Linked DNA regions of Homo sapiens: region 1 is linked to region 2. A link means that fine-mapping ties the variant in region 2 to the expression of a gene that starts in the linked region. Tissue or cell type: whole blood. Region 2 holds a variant in brackets; the other region holds the start of a gene. All regions are shown on one strand. Distances are between the middles of the regions.

The links. PIP is the estimated chance that this variant, and not a neighbour inherited with it, causes the effect.
Region 1: SNX21 starts here. The variant in region 2 is fine-mapped to the expression of SNX21 in whole blood (TOPMed, PIP above 0.99).

Annotation. Positions count from the first base shown.
Region 1 is chr20:45,829,793-45,837,894 of GRCh38, forward strand. SNX21 (sorting nexin family member 21) reads left to right here and starts at 4,007. Exons shown (of 4, transcript NM_033421.4): 1 at 4,007-4,148; 2 at 4,409-4,676; 3 at 5,167-5,324. The coding sequence starts at 4,128. It also overlaps a transcript of TNNC2 not described here. RefSeq lists silencers at 4,051-4,360, 4,381-4,500, 4,541-4,590.
Region 2 is chr20:45,856,861-45,864,962 of GRCh38, forward strand. ACOT8 (acyl-CoA thioesterase 8) reads right to left here and starts at 532. Exons shown (of 6, transcript NM_005469.4): 1 at 328-532. The coding sequence starts at 455. It overlaps ZSWIM3 (zinc finger SWIM-type containing 3), which reads left to right and starts at 754. Exons shown (of 2, transcript NM_080752.4): 1 at 754-1,120. The coding sequence starts at 966. The variant G/A (reference allele first, on the strand shown) is at 3,975.

The DNA of each region.
Region 1 (8,102 bases), 27 kb before region 2:
AAAAAAGTTTCATCATGTTGGCCAGGCTGGTCTCAAACTCCTGACCTCAAGTGATCCGCCTGCCTCAGCCTCCTAAAGTGCTAGGATTACAGGCATGAGCCCCTGAGCCCAGCCTTTGTTCTTTTGTTTATTCAAGGGATTAGGTAAGGCCCAAATTGCTTAATGTAGCCAAGCAAGGTCCCATTGGCCCTTCTAATCTCACTCCTTCCCTCCACATCATGTTGCTGTCTGCTCTGATCAGACTTTAAAATACTGCTCTAGGCTGGGCACGGTGGCTCATGCCTGTAATCCCAGCATTTTGGGAGGTGCAGGCTGGCAGATCACGAGGTCAGGAGTTCGAGACCATCCTGGCCAGCATGGTGAAACCCTGTCTCTACTAAAAATACAAAAAATTGCTGCTGGGTGTGGTGGTGGGCGCCTGTAGTCCCAGCTACTTGGGAAGCTGAGGCAGAAGAATCACTTGAACCTGGCAGGCGAAGGTTGCACTGAGCCAAGATCATGCCACTGCTCTCCAGCCTGGGCGACAAAAGGAGACTGCATCTCAAAAAAAAAAAAAAAAAAAAAAAGACTACTCTAAACACCACCTTCTATGAACCTTCAAGCCTTTGCACATGCTGTTTTTTTCTGCCAGAAACTCCCATCTTTCCTCTCTTCATCTGTCTACTTCCCTATCATCTTTCTAAGCTCTAACATCACTTCCTCGGGGATCCTTCCCCCACTGTGTCCAGACCAGGGAGTCCAAGGTGGTCTCTAGTAGTTTCCTCAATCATAGCACTGAGCATACCTTATGCTCACAACCCATTCTATGTTCTACAGATCATCACATTTCCCAGTGCTCAGCACTTGCTATGTAGCAGGTGTTCAACAGATATTATATTCTACATAAGAATAACTGAACTGGATGGTATTTAGTTCAATATAAGGGGGAACTTCCTAATAGTCATAGTTGAACAATAATGGGAACAGGTGGCCTCAGGAGGTAATGAGCTCCGTATCACTGAGTATACCCAAACAGGAGCTAGATGACCATTTCTCAGGGAGGCTGTAGGGAGATATCCATACAGAATTTAAGAATGGGGGCAGTGGCTCACACTTTTAATCCTAGCACATTGGGAAGCTGAGGCAGGTGGATCTCTTGAGCCCAGGAGTTCAATACCAGCCTGGGCAACATGGCGAGACGCTGTCTCCAATTAAAAAATTAAAATAAAACAAAGAATGGTGGGTGGTAGCTCATACTTGTAATCCCAGCACATTGGGAGGCAGAGGTAGGAGGATCTCTTCAGGCCAAGAGTTCAAGATCAGCCTGGGCAACATGCAACCCCACCTTTACAAAAAATAAAATACTAGCCAGGCATGGTGGGCACATATCTGTAGTCCCAGATACTTGGGAGGCTGAGGTGGGAGAATCACTTGAGCCCAGGAGTTTGAGGCTGCAGTGAGCTATGATCGCACCCCTGCACTCCAGCCTCACAACAGAGTGAGACTCTGTCTCTGAAAGAAGAGGCCGGGCACGGTGGCTCATGTCTCTAATCCCAGCACTTTGGGAGGCTGAGGCAGGTGGATCATTTGAGGTCAGCAGTTCGAGACCAGCCTGGCCAACATGGTGAAACCCCATCTCTACTAAAAATACAAAAATTAGCCGGGTGTGGTGGCACATGCCTGTAATTCCAGCTACTTGGGATTACTTGTAATTCCAGCTACTTGGGATTACTTGAGGCAGGAAAATCGCTTGAACCCAGGAGATGGAGGTTGTAGTGAGCCAAGAGTGTGCCATTGGACTCCAGCCTGGGTGATGGAGTAAGACTCTGTCTCAAAAAAAATAAAATAAATAAAAATAAATAAAAAAGGAAGAAGAAGCAGGAGGAGGAAGAAGGAAGCAAAAAGAAGAAGAAATAATAATAGTGGAGAATGCGCAACCTTCAGATCTCCTAGTTCTGACTGTTTATATGACCCAGCATAAGCCCTTCCCCTCACTAAGCCTCAGACTACCTATCTGTAAAATGGAGGTGATAGGCCAGATTTCTGAGGGGCCCTCCTGCTCTAACAACCCATGGTTTCATGAAGACCAGCTTTGTGCCCAGACATGTAAGGCATATACCGAAGGACAAGTTATTTTTTAACCAATGGTTGGTGAATGAGTGAGTGTTGAATTAATGAATGAAGTATGCCTTTTTTGTCCCAATATCTTGCCCATAAGCCAAATGAAGAGTAATTCGAGGTTTGAAATTGTGCAAACTGGCCAGGCACAGTGGCTCACGCCTGTAATCCCAGCACTTTGGGAGGTAGAGGCAGGTGGATCACTTGAGGCCAGGTGTTCCAGATCAGCCTGGCCAATATGGTGAAACCCCACCTCTACTAAAAATACAAAAATTAGCCGCATGGTGGCACATGCCTGTAGTCCCAGCCACTCAGGAGGCTGAGGCAGGAGAATTGCTTGAACCTGGGAGGCAGAGGTTACAGTGAGCCAAGATTGCATCACTGTACTCCAGCCTGGGCGACAGAGCAAGACTCTGTCTCCCTCTCTAAAAATAAATAAATAAATAAATAAAATTGCACAAACTTAGGCTTAAAATCCCAGCCCCTCTATTTCCCAGATGTGGATCTTGGGGAAGTCACTTTGCCTCAGTTTCTTCATCTTGAAAATGGACCATTAATGTCCAGTTACAGCCTCTTCCCCAGGACGCTGTGAGGGAGAGATGTGACAGTAAAGTGCCTAGAGCAGGATGTAGAAAGTGGACCCTCAGAAAATAAGAACCCCAGCCTTTCTGCTCACATGGGAGGGCAGGGAGCTGAAATACCTTCTGCTTATCCCAAGGCATTTTCCCCCACCCTTCTCTCCTGTGCCACTCAGAAAGGGTAGGAGCTACTTTGGAGAGATTTTGATTTTATTTATTGTATTGTATAACTATCAAAATCTGCCCTAACAACTGATACCTAGGCTTTGTGACAGGAAGCCACAATAACTTTTTCTTGACCTGCAGCTGCCCTGCGGATAAAAGATAAAACAAAGCTGGGGAGCCACTGAGATTATCAGGCCTGCTGCACAGGAAAAGGGCAGTATGCAGCAGGGGACCTGGGCTCCAGGCCCCATACTCAGAAACCTCTGAGGGAGGCAGAGGCAGGTGGATCACTTGAGCCCAGGAATTCGAGACCAGCCTGGGCAACATGGCCAAATCCCATCTCTACAAAAAATACAAAAATTAGCTGGGTGTGGTGGCGAACGCCTCTATTCCTAGCTACTGGGGAGGCTGAGGTGGGAGGGATGACCTGAGCCCAGGGAGGCGGAGGTTGCAGTAAGCAGAGATGGTGCCACTGCACTCCAGCCTAGGTGACAGAGTGAGACTCCATCTCAAAAGAGAAAGAAAGAAAGAAAGAGAGAGAGAGAAAGAAAGAAAGAGAGAGAGAGAAAGAAAGAAAGAAACCTCTGGCAAGCTGTGTGGTTAAGCCAAGTAACTCACCCTCTCTGGTCCTCAGTTTCCCTGTTTGCCTACTTCCCATGTGTGAGGTTCAAATCAGATTGTGCAAGCCTGTGAACACTGTAGAAACAATAATCATTATGTAAGTGATCATTTCGTCAGCCTTTGCTCTATGCCAGGCACGGGACGAGCGTTCTTACAAGAGCTGCAAAATTAGTTTTAGCAGTATTGTTCCTGTTTTACATATGAGAAAACCTAGGCTCAGCGAGGTCAGATTCCAACCAACCCAAATCACGCATCTTCTCCTGGCCCTTCGTTTTCTCTCGGGAGACATGGCCTCCCTACTATTGCATAATTACTTTGTGAAGTTAAAGAGCGTTGGGTGGAAATGAGTGGGACAGATTGGAGATGACGTGGGTGGGGTGGGAGGATTCAAGGAGGGTACGCGCCTGGCCGGACTGGGATGACTCTGCGGCAGGCCTGGGACTCCCTCAGGCCGACCCAGGCTTCCCAAGTCCCTCCTGGAGCCAAGGGCCCGGGATTCTCGGGCGGCTCGGGCGAGCGGGCGGGGCAGGAGGCGGGGCGGCGGCAGGAAGCTGCCCGAGCGGCGCTCTGAGCGGCCTGAGCCCGGCGGAGCCCTGCAGAACCCGGCCGACCTCCATGGGCTGCGGGGGGCTGCACCCGGACCCCTGGGGCGCGGCGCGCCCCTGAATGCACCGTGGGACGCAGGAGGTAGAGGCGCACGAGGCGGCGCAAGAGACATCGGGAGGGTCCTGAGCCCCTCCGGGGAGGAACGCGGTCCTAGGCTGAGTGGGTTGGGGGGAAAGCGATGCTGGCTGGGTCCCCTGGTTCGCAAGACCTCGGACTGCCAGGGGGTGGGGCCTCACCGCGCCCCTCCCTCTCCGGTTCGGGCCCCGCCCCTCCTCCTCCTGCGCCGGGCTGGGGTACCCCTCCTCCGGGATCCGGTACACAGCGTCGCGCGCTCCCCCCAGGGTGCCATGGCCTCCCGGCTCCTGCACCGGCTGCGGCACGCCTTGGCCGGCGACGGCCCCGGGGAGGCGGCGGCCAGTCCAGAGGCCGAGCAGTTTCCGGAGAGCTCAGAGCTGGAGGACGACGACGCCGAGGGCCTGTCCTCCCGACTCAGCGGCACCCTCAGCTTCACCAGCGCCGAGGACGACGAGGACGACGAGGACGAGGACGACGAGGAGGCTGGCCCTGACCAGCTGCCCCTCGGGGATGGGACGTCAGGAGAAGACGCAGGCGAGTGCAGGAGGACGGAGGCGGGAACCCTGGGGCTCGATTAGGCCTCCATCCCAGCCGCGTTCCCAGAGCATCCAGGGCGCTAAGTTGATCCAGCTGAAACTCCCACACTTCTTAAAGCGCCTGGGCCACCTCTTGGCTGTGTGACCTTGAGAGAGTCTTAACCCCCCTCTGAGCCAAGTTTTCCCTTGTGTCAAGTGGGAGAACTCACTCTCATCTCAGAATTGCTGCAGGCATTAAATGTACAGGGCTTGGGATCCGAATGGAAATGATGTATTAACGATATTTTGAGGGTGGAGCTATTAATTTAGCCCCTACTGTCTGCCAGGCACGGTGTTTGGCTCCTCGGTGCCTCTCTGTCCCTCAGTTTCCATTTCTGTAAAAAGGGGGTAAGTCCTGCCTCACACTGGGAGGATGAGTGAGGCCACGTCAGTGGTTGATGTCGACCCTGGCCCTAGGCCCATTGATATGACTGGTCATGTGTCTGCAGAACGGAGCCCCCCACCTGATGGGCAGTGGGGCAGTCAGCTCCTGGCGCGGCAGCTGCAGGATTTCTGGAAGAAGTCCCGGAACACCTTGGCACCCCAGCGGCTGCTCTTCGAAGTGACCAGCGCTAACGTTGTCAAGGACCCGCCCTCCAAGTACGTGGTGAGTGAGGGTCTAGAACCCCTGGGCTGTGAGTCCAGAAGTATGGCTAGGAGCAAGTAGGGAAGACCCCAACTTCCTGAGGGGTCTATGTAGTTATAAATGGTTACCTTGTTTACAAATGGGGAAACTGAGGTCAGAAAGGGGATGTAACTTGAGCAAATCCTCACACAAGACTTAGTTTCCTTGAGACTGACTGAAGTGGGGATTAAGGACCTTCCTCTTAACCTGGTTTTGAGACTAAGAGAACTGGTGTGTGCACTTCCCCACCCAGCCCACAAGGTTTTTGCAAATTGTAGCAAGATGTGAGATACAGAGAGACAGATGTTATCTGGGTCAAACTTGAGATCCAAGTTGCATGGGCTGGTAGTTAAGGAAATAGGCTTTCGATCCAGACCAATCTTGACTCCCACTTATTTCCAGTTGTTTGACTCTGGGTGAGTTGTTTAACCTTGGTCATCTTCCGTTTCCTCATTATAGCAATGGGGAAAATGCAGAAGATTACAGCAGGAGTTAAATGAGACAATGGACAAAAAGCCCTTAGCAGTGTGCCTGGCATTATGACGTGGTCAATGAAATGGTAGCTATGTCATCATTATTTAACTTTGGGTTGAAAATGTTTGTCATCTAGGGCCTGCTGTGTCCTTATAACGCACAGGTCAATCAGTTCTCAAGCACCCGACCTTGTCCCTAAGGGCTAGACTTAGAGGGTTGGTGGAGGTTAGGATGAAGAGCAATGTTGGGGAGGACCTTGGAGTCCCTTGCTGTTTTCCTTGCTGTTGAGAGACTGACTTGGAGAATGAGGTCTGCTCCTTTAATGCCCACAGCGACTCCTGCTCCAGTCCCTTTTCAGGCCAGGCCTGAAAGCCAGCTGAGCTGGCCACTCCTGTCAGTGGCAGCTCTCCATCTCTCACTCCCCTCCTCTTCACCACCCTTCTCCACCTCTGACTCAGCAGGAGGGGGCCTGGAGCCCAGTCCCACATCTGGGCCTCTCCACCCTTTTCTGTTGCTGTTAGTAAGCAAGGGCCACACCCATGGGGTGACTACTCCAATTTCAGCAGGGACCGACTCCGATTATTGAGTCTTTTAAAAAAATTTTTGAGGCCGGGCGTGGTGGCTCACGCCTGTAATCCCAGCACTTTGGGAAGCCGAGGCGGGCGGATCACGAGGTCACGAGACCATCCTGGATAACACGGTGAAACCCCGTCTCTACTAAAAATACAAAAAAATAGCCGGGCATGGTGGCAGGCGCCTGTAGTCCCAGTTACTTGGGAGGCTGAGGCAGGAGAATGGCGTGAACCCAGGAGGCAGAGTTTGCAGTGAGCCGAGATCGAGCCACTGCAGTCCGGCCTGGGCAACAGAGCGAGACTCCGTCTCAAAAAAAAAAAAAAAAAAAAAAAAAAATTTTGAGACAGGGTCTCGTTCTGTCACTCAGGCTGGAGTGCAGTGGTGCAGTCATAACTCACTACAACCTCCAACTGGGCTCAAGCTATCCTCCCACCTCAGCCTCCCAAGTAGCTAGGACTACAGCTGTGCACCACCACGTGTGGCCAATGATGAAGTCTGAAGTGGCAAAGGTCTCAGAACTCTGGGTTCATACACTGGAAGGGGACACCAAGGAATAGTTCAGAGGCTGAGAGGAATGGGGGTGACTGTGGGTACCTGGATGGGAAGGGATGACAAGATAGAGCAGGATGGCCAAGTATGCCCCGGCCTGTGTCTGGAGAAGCAAGGCACCTCCTGTGTACAATGGGGACCCTAATTCCCCACTCAACTTGTGGGGGTGAAGAGCACAGGCTTTGGAATCAGATCAACCTGAGTTTAAATCCCAGCTGGGCTGTTTTCCAGCTGTGTGACTTACGGCAAGTCTTTGAGCCCTTTTCCCCCTCTTTGAGCCTGCTTCCTCAGCTGTCAGAGATAAGGACCTTCCTTGCAGTGCTGTTGTGATGATTAAATGAAATCACAGATGTAAAGAGTGCTTGGTACAACAGGAGGCACAGGGTAAATGCTTGGGTAATGGAACTACTGTCATTATCACCCATCTGGCTGCATGTTACAAGGTCAATGAGATAATGGATACAAAATGTAAACTAGATGAACATAAAGGCTTATTATATAGACCAGTGTGTCCTGAAGAAAACTGGTGTCCTAAAGTGTGTCCTGCAGAAAACTAGTTCCCTGGAATGTTAATAGCTGTTTCTAAATAAAGGTTTTGCAGGCAATATGTTTTGAGAATGCAGAGTTAAATGAGAATACAATAAGTTTCTTTATTGTTAAAGTATTTAATCCCTAATAGTGATATACACTGTGAATCTTCAAGAGGACAGAGTAAGCAAACCTAACTGACCAGGAGTGGCTAGAGTATTGTCAGTTCCACAGAACAAATGTGAGAGAAAGATCTGGATTTGGTGTTAGGGTGCCTTTAACATCTAACACTGGTTAACTCTCCTTTTAAACCTGTTGGCTTGGCATTATAGGTTAATCCATATTCAGGTTCTCAGACCTGGGAGGCGGGGAACTTCGTGATCATCTTGTTCAGTGTTTTCCAAACCTCAGTCATTCCAATACCTCCCTGATTCTTGTCCTATCTAAAAATGCCACTTGTGTCCTTTTCTTCTTAACATTTTTCTTTAAATGAACCTATTTTTTTTTCTTTATCTTTTTTTTTTTCTTTTTTGAGACAGAGTCTTGCTCTGTTGCCCAGGCTGGAGTGCAGTGGTGCAATCTCAGCTCACTGCAACCTCCACCTCCTAGGTTCAAGCAATCCTCCCGCCTCAGCCT
Region 2 (8,102 bases):
CTGATCCATCAGCTGTGTGCCCTTGGGCAAATCACTGCCCTCTCTGGGCTAGCTCCCCCGTGAAGGCTTAGGGCAGGCTGCCGAGCAGGGTCTCTCAGGTCACCACTATATTTGCTCAGCTGTGCAGACCTCGCAGCGCGGAGAGGAAGGGAGGAAGCCAGAGCAGAGAGGACAGCTCTGTTGGGGGCGAGTTCTCTCCTAATCGTGGCAGAGGGTGCATCCCACGCAGAGCCATACTAGTCCCGGAGCCAGGGGCCCCGGGCGGCGGCAGTCAAGATCAAGTTTCTGCCCTAAAGGAGGGGATGCTGGGCAGGAGCTGCCGGCTACCTGAAGAGATCCTCGTCCAGCGGCTCGAGGTTGAGCACGGTCGTGACCAAGACGCTACGGAGGTCCCCAGGGGGATCGCCGCGGTCGCCACAGCCCTGCCCATCTTCTGGGGCCTGCGGGGACGACATCTAGTTCAATGCTGCAGGCCCTGCACACCCGCTCCGCGGAAGACGCGGAGACATACACAGAACCTGACTCTTCCGGCAGATTGCCCTAGTAACCGGAAGTCTCCTGCAGACCCCGGGAAGGAGGAATCTAGGTTATGATTGGTCAGGACTCCTGTCAGTCCGCTGGTGGCTGTGGCCCTCTTTCTCTAGCAATTGGAGAAAATGAATGCCAATCTGCGAATCCTGTGTGTGACTGGATATGTCGCTGAGGAGGCGGAACCTCGGGACTGGATAATATGGACTGAGTGTCATTTCCCCTGTCAGATAGCAAATACACCCCCTTCCTCTTGTAACCCGGTCAGGCCTAGGGTTCCTCCCTGAGTTCCAGAATAGGCCACCCAGTTGGGGCGGACCCTTAAGGCATTCTGGGCCCACGCCTGCCTATAAACCCTCATAGTGTGACCTTTGACCCCTGGTGTGATCTTGGGCCCGGGCTGGGACCAGCCCCTAGTGTGGGTTGTGGGGGCGGCCATGGAGCTGGGCAGCTGCTTCAAGACCTATGAGGACTTCAAGGAGTGCTTCAGCGCCTACAAAAGGGAGAACAGGTGCTCCTTCATTCTCAGGGACTGCGTCTCCGTCCGCTTCCACAACCTCAACCATGGCACCTCCATCCGCGAAGACATCCTGTAAGGGCGGGCGGGGCGGGGCGGGCCAAGAGGGTGGGGAGGAGGCTGGACCTCCGGAGGGCTGCCTGGAGGAGGAGGGGTGCATAGGCACGCATTGGGCTGCGTGGCCATTCATTCAACAGGCACTCATTGAGCACCTGCTGTGTGCCTTGTGAAGAGAGCTAAGCCTCCACGGCCATTGGTTTTTGACCACCCACTCCACTTTCACTCCATTCACAGGCTTTTCTGGAATTTATAACTGCAGTTTCTCCCATTGTTTTGAGCAGCTGCAGCAACCCAAATACAAAGTATGGCTTTCATAAACGGATAAAAACACCTTGGCGATAATTTCCTTCATCAGTCTCCTCTTTACAAAACAGTCACATGGTCGTTGGAATGTTCGTTCATTCATTCATTCAGTTTTTAGTTCTTATATATTTGTTGAAACAGGGTCTCACTCTGTCCCCCAGGCTGGAGTGCAGTGGCACAATCAGCTCACTGAGCCTTCAACTGCTGGGCTCAAGCGATCCTCCCACCTCAGCCTCTCAAGTAGTTGGAACTGGAGGTGCACGCCACCATGCCTGGCTAATTATTTGATTTTGTACAGACTGGGTCTTGTTATGTTGGCTAGGCTGTTCCCAGACTCCTGGACTAAGCGATCTTTCGGCGTCTCAAAGTGTTAGGATTACAGGCATGAGCCACTATGCCTGGTCTATTCATTCATTTTGTAAATGGTTTTTGAGCTCCTTATATTAACCGTTTTCAAACACTTTCCATGTGCCAGGCAGTGTTCTCTATGCATGCTTTACCCTGCAGGGCTTTTTTTTCAGAATTATAGATAAATGTTATTTTTTTGCATTTGACAGATGAGAAGATTTGACAGATGAGAAGTCAGGCTTAGAGGTTAAGACAGGAGTTGAAAACTCAAATGCCTTCAGGGATTAGGTGAAACAACCCAATGTAAGAAAGTTTTAACTTTGAATTTTACTTTAAGAAAAAGAATGATGAAATAGCAACCAACACCAGGTCTTTGTGCTAGGGACAACAGAAGTGTGAAATGGGCCAAATGGAGAGTAGATGCCATCTAATCAGCTCCAGCTGATGGCTGCCATATGAAAATAAAGATCTAGTGTTGCCAGAATTTTGGGCAAGAGTTGTCAGAAATCCACACTTTATGTGGATTTTCCCATTTAAAAAAATTGAATCAGTTCAAATTTTAACTCAGAGCATGCGGGCCAACTCAGAGTTAAAGCATATCCGAGTTTGAGACTTGGATTGAGATGCTCAACCAAAGCTCCTCAATTAGACAGCCAGGCTATATTCTTTCCACTGTTCTGAAGTCCAGTGCTATGCTGGGTATAGGTGACATAAAGATGAATAAGTGTTCAAACTATCCCCAGAGAACTAGGATAAACTTGAACTCAAGCAAACTGGTGTGTGATAAATGCTTTAAAAGGAATGTGGAAAAAAAAAAAAAAAAAGAAATGTACGGAGAAAGAAATGAATGACAAATGCCTGGGAGGTGGGGGAAGTCTTCACACTGGAATTGATGGTTTCCCTGGGCTGTGAATGAATGTAGAGTGCTAGAGTAGATCTGTGGTTAATTACTGAGTACCATGGAGGCATTTGACCAGAAGTTGCTGTGCAGAAGGACCTACAGGAGCAAAGACAAAGATACATGAAAGAAGGTTGGCATGTTAGAGTAACAGTGAGGGATACCATGTTTGGCAGGAGATGAAGTCATTTGCAGTCTAAGGGTCTTTAGGGACCATTGTGAGGTGTTTGGACCTTGTCCTTTATGGGTAGGACCTTGCTAAGCAATGAGAGGAATACAAAAAAAAAAAAAAAAAAAAAAAACCACAGTTGCCCGTAAACACCCTTCAGGAAGACCATCTCAGGTGGCTAGCACAAGGTGTGGCCCATAGCAGGCATTAAATAATTATTGAATGAGTGAGTTATCAAGTACTAACCATGTGATTCAGGGAAATAGGTGCTGCGGGAACTCAGAAGAGAAAAATCACTGCGAGCTAGAGACGTAAGAGTGAAAGGGAGGCTTGAGCTGGGCCCCCAAAGATGGAGAGCTGTCAGAAGGTGTATTGGTTTTCTGTTTGCCACTCTAGTGAATTACCACAAGTTTAATGGTGCAAAGCAACACAAATTTATTATCTTAGAGTTATTTAGGTTAGAAGTCAGGCACAGGTCTTAGCAGGCTAAATCAAGATGTCTGCAGGGCTGTATTTCTTTCTGGAGTCCCTGGGTAAGAATCCATTTCCCGCCGGGTGCAGTGGCTGATGCCTGTAATCCCAGCACTTTGGGAGGCCAAGGTGGGCAGATCACTTGAGGTCAGCAGTTCAAGACCATCCTGGCCAACATGGTGAAACCCCGTCTCTACTAAAAATACAAAAATTAGCTAGGCGAGGTGGCACATGCCCGTAATCCCAGCTACTCAGGAGGCTGAGGCAGCAGAATTGCAGCCGGGAGGTGGAGGTTGCAGTGAGCCAAGATCGTGCCATTGCACTCCAGCCTCGGCAACAGAGCGAGACTCCATCTCAAAAAAAAAAAAAAAAAAAAAAAAAGAATCCTTTTCCTTTCCTTTTCCACCTCCTAGAGGCTGCCCAACACACCTTGGGTCATGGCCCCCTTCCTCCATCTTCAAAGCCAGCAGTAGCAGGTTGAGTCATCACATCACTCTGACCTTGCTTCTGTCATCACGTCTCTGACTCCCTCTTCTGCCTCCCTCTTCCACTTTTAAGGATCCTTGTGATTATATTGGGCCCACCCAGATAATCCCAGATAATTTCCCTATTTTGAAGTCAGCTGATAGCCACCTTAATTCTATCTGCAACCTTAATTCTCCTTTGCCATGTAACCTAAC[G/A]TATTCACAGAGTCTAGGATTAGGACAAGGACATCTTCAAGGGACCATTCTGCCTGCCACAAGAAGATTAATAACCTGGAGGTAAAAATGGTGTGAGTCAGTACAGACGTAAACATGACGTGCTTCTATTAGAAAACAGTGATGGGCTGGGCACGGTGGCTCACACTTGTAATCCTAATACTTTGGGAGGCTAAGACAGGGAGATTGCTTGAAATGAAGAGTTTGAGACCAGCCCAGACTATAATCCTGGGCAACAAAATGAGATCCCCGTCTCCACAAAACAAAATTTAAAATTAGGGGCCAGGTTGTGGCAGCTCACACGTATAATTCCAGCACTTTGGTAGGCTGAGGCAGGCAGATGGCTTGAGGCCAGGCATTCTAGACCAGCCTGGGCAACATGCCAAAACCTCATCTGTACAAAAAATACAAAAAGTAGCCAGGCATAGTGGTGTGTGCCTGTAGTACCAGCTACTCTGGAGGCTGCGGCAGGAGGATTGCTTGATCCCAGGAGTCAGAGGTTGCAGTGAGCTATGATCGCACCACTGCACACTACATTTTAGCCTGGGCAACAACAGAGTAAGATCCTGTCTCTAAAAAAAAAAAAAAAAGCAAGCAGTGATGTATGTTTGCACGCACATACAAAAGCCATGAGGAGACCTGCTTAGCTAGAAGGAAGGATTTATGCTGGAGCAGCAGGAAAGGAAATTGGAGGGTTGATAAGCAGGTTGGTGGGTTGGGATTTGTTTTGTTTGTTTTAGGAGACAAGGTCTCGCTCTATTGCCCAGGCTAGAGTACAGTGGGAGGGTCATAGTTTACTGTAACCTTGAAATCCTGGCCTCAAGTAATCTTACTACCTCAGCCTCCTAAGTAGCTAGGACTACAGGTATGCACCCCCATGCCAGGCTAATTTTTTTTTTTCAATTTTTTGTGTAGAGACAGGGTCTTGCCATGTTGCCCAGGCTGGTCTTGAACTCCTAGGCTCAAGCTGTCCTCCTGCCTCAGCCTCCCAAAGTGTTGGGATTACAGATATGAACCACCATGCTGGACCTGTTTTTGTTTTTGAAGGTGAACAATTTTAAAAGTGTTTTTGGGCCAGGCACAATTCAATCACTTGAACCCAGGAGGCGGAGGTTGCAGTGAGTCAAGATCATGCCACTACACTCCAGCCTGGGCGACACAGCGAGACTCTGTCTCAAAATAAATAAATAAAAAGTGTTTTTGTGTTTGAGTGGTTAACATAATTAAAAATATTTTCAAAAAGTACAGAAGGGACTAAAAGGGTCACCTCCACTGCATTAGCTTTTGGTTTTTTTTGGTTTTTTTTTTTTTTGAGAGATGGAGTTTCGCTCTGTCGCCAGGCTGGAGTGCAGTGGCGCGATCTTGGCTCCCCGCAACCTTTGACTCCCTGGTTCAAGCGATTCTCCTGCCTCAGCCTCCCAAGTAGCTGAGATTACAGGCACGCACCACCCCACCCAGCTAATTTTTGTATTTTTAGTAGAGACAGGGTTTCACCATGTTTGCGAGGAAGGTCTCAATCTCCTGACCCGGTGATCCACCCGCCTCAGCCTCCCCTGCTGGGATTACAGATGTGAGCCACCGTGCCCAGTCTGCATTATCTTTTTTATCTATTTATTTATTTCATTTTTATTTATTTACTTACTTACTTACTTATTTTGAGATGGAGTCTTGCTCTGTCACCCAGGCTGGAGTGCAGTGGTGCAATCTTGGCTCACTGCAACCTCTGCCTCCCGGGTTCAAGTGATTCTCCTGTCTCAGCCTCCCAAGGAGCTGAGACTACAGGCATGCACCACCACGCCTGGCTAATTGTTGTATTTTTAGTAGAGACAGGGTTTTGCCATGTTGGCTAGGCTGGTGTTGAACTCCTGACCTCAAGTTATACACCCATCTCAGCCTTCCAAAGGGCTGCGATTACAGCTGTGAGGTGCCACGCCCAGCCTATGTATTTATTTATTTTTATTTTTGTAGAGGTGAGGTCTCACTATGTTGCCCAAACTGATATTGAACTCCTAGGCTCAAGTGATCCTCCCTCCTCGGCCTTGGAAAGTGCTAGGATTACAGGCATGAGCCACTGTGCCTGGCCCACTGCATTATTATATAGAGGCAATCAGCGTTACCTTCCTGAGAGATACTGAGGCTGAACAAACATGTCTTGTATATGCATTTGCATCTTTTTGTTGTTTTAACACAAGTGGCAGCATGCTATTTAGACATAGCCTTCTGTACCTGCTGTACCTGGCTCTTCTCACTTACCAATATATCTTGGAAATTATGCCACCGTATGGGCAATTTGATTTGACTTTCATTGATTTCCTTGTTTTTTTTTTTGTTTGTTTGTTTGTTTTTTTGTTTGTTTTTTGCAGTTGTTAACTAAAAAGTTACTCCATGCTGGTGTCTGGAGATACGTTGTTGAAAAATATAAATTGAATCTCTGCTCTTGTGGAGACAAATACTAATCTATAATCACAGAAATAATAATTTCCTTAAAGTGGTAGTAGAGCTCCAAAGGAAAAACCCAGGGTGCCCTGTGGAGGGGTGATGGTGACACTTATTCTGATTGTCAGGAACAGGGTGGGGGTGCTGGTTGACACCCTAAACCAATGCAGGCTCTTGCTCAGAAAAAACTGTCAGCCCTGAGATTTTGCAGATACTTTACAAAGCACATTCACCTTTATTACCTGACCTGGTTCTCTGAATAACCTTGTCAGAGGCAAATTTTGCTGTTCCCACTAAATTAGTTAATACATGTAAAGTGCTTACAGCAGTGCCTTGTAGATGGAAAATAGTCCACAAATATTGTATTGTTTTACAGATGGGGAGACAGAGCCAGGAGAAGTCAAACATTAAGAGACAAATAGTTTAGGGCCAGGCGCAGTGGCTCATGCCTGTAATCCCAGCACTTTGGGAGACCAGGGCAGACAGATCACCTGAGGTCAGGAGTTCGAGACCAGCCAGGCCAACATGGTGAAACCCTTTCTCTACTAAAAATAAAAAAATTAGCCAGGCATGGTGGTACGTGCCTGTAATCCCAGCTACTCAGGAGGCTGAGGCAGGAGAATCACTTTAACCCAGGAAGAGGAGGCTGCAGTGAGCTGAGATGGCACCACTGCACTCCAGCCTGAGCAGCAGAGCGAGACTCTGTCTCAAAACAACAGCATAAATAACTGAAAATTAGACCCAGCCTATTTACTGACAGAGCTCTTAATTGTTGTACTTAGCCACTGGGCTCTAATAGTTTTCTAATGTCACTTGTCCATTTTTCCCTCAACAAACTTGTGGTAAGAGGCTAAGTGTTTACCATGGGCCAGGAGTACAAAGATGAGCTGGAGTACAAAGATGAGGAAATTGTAGGCTCCACCCCTGAGGACAATAGCGGACTGAGATAGCTTAGGAGGCGGTGAATTCATGAGCAGCACAGGTCTTTAGCAGAAACAAGTTGACTGCTGGTTGTGATGTTATAAAGGACATTCTTGGATCATTTATTGCAAACTGGCTCTGTGCAGAGCTCACTGTCTTGGGCTTTTTGAGTGATACGTGGGTGTCTTGGGGGACTGGAGGGTTGGTGGGGGAAATGTTTTTAGGAGGTAATTTAGTACATGTTTCTGCAGCCAAATACACATATTACTGGGTGGTCAGGTGAGATGATATTAATACTTATGTGAAAATGTAGACATAAAGTTCCTTGATAAGCAAAGTAAAGCAAGTGAACTAATTTAAAGAAAACCATTTACAGCTGGATGTTGCTCACGCCTATAATCCCAACACTTTGGGAGGTCGAGGCGGGCGGATCACTTAAAGTCGGGAGTTTGAGACCAGCCTGCCCGACATGGTGAAACCAACTCTACTAAAAATACATAAATTAGCCAGGCACGGTGATGGGCATCTATAATCCCAGCTACTCAGGGGGCTGAGGCAGGAGGATCCCTTGAACCCGAGAGGCGGAGGCTGCAGTGAGCTGAGATCACGCCACTGCACTCCAGCCTGGGTGACAGAGTGAGACTCCATCTCAAAAAAATTTTTGAAAATAATGGTGCAGGGCCGGGCGTGGTGGCTCACGCCTGTAATCCCAGCACTTTGGGAGGCCCAGGTGGGTGGATCATGAGGTCAGGA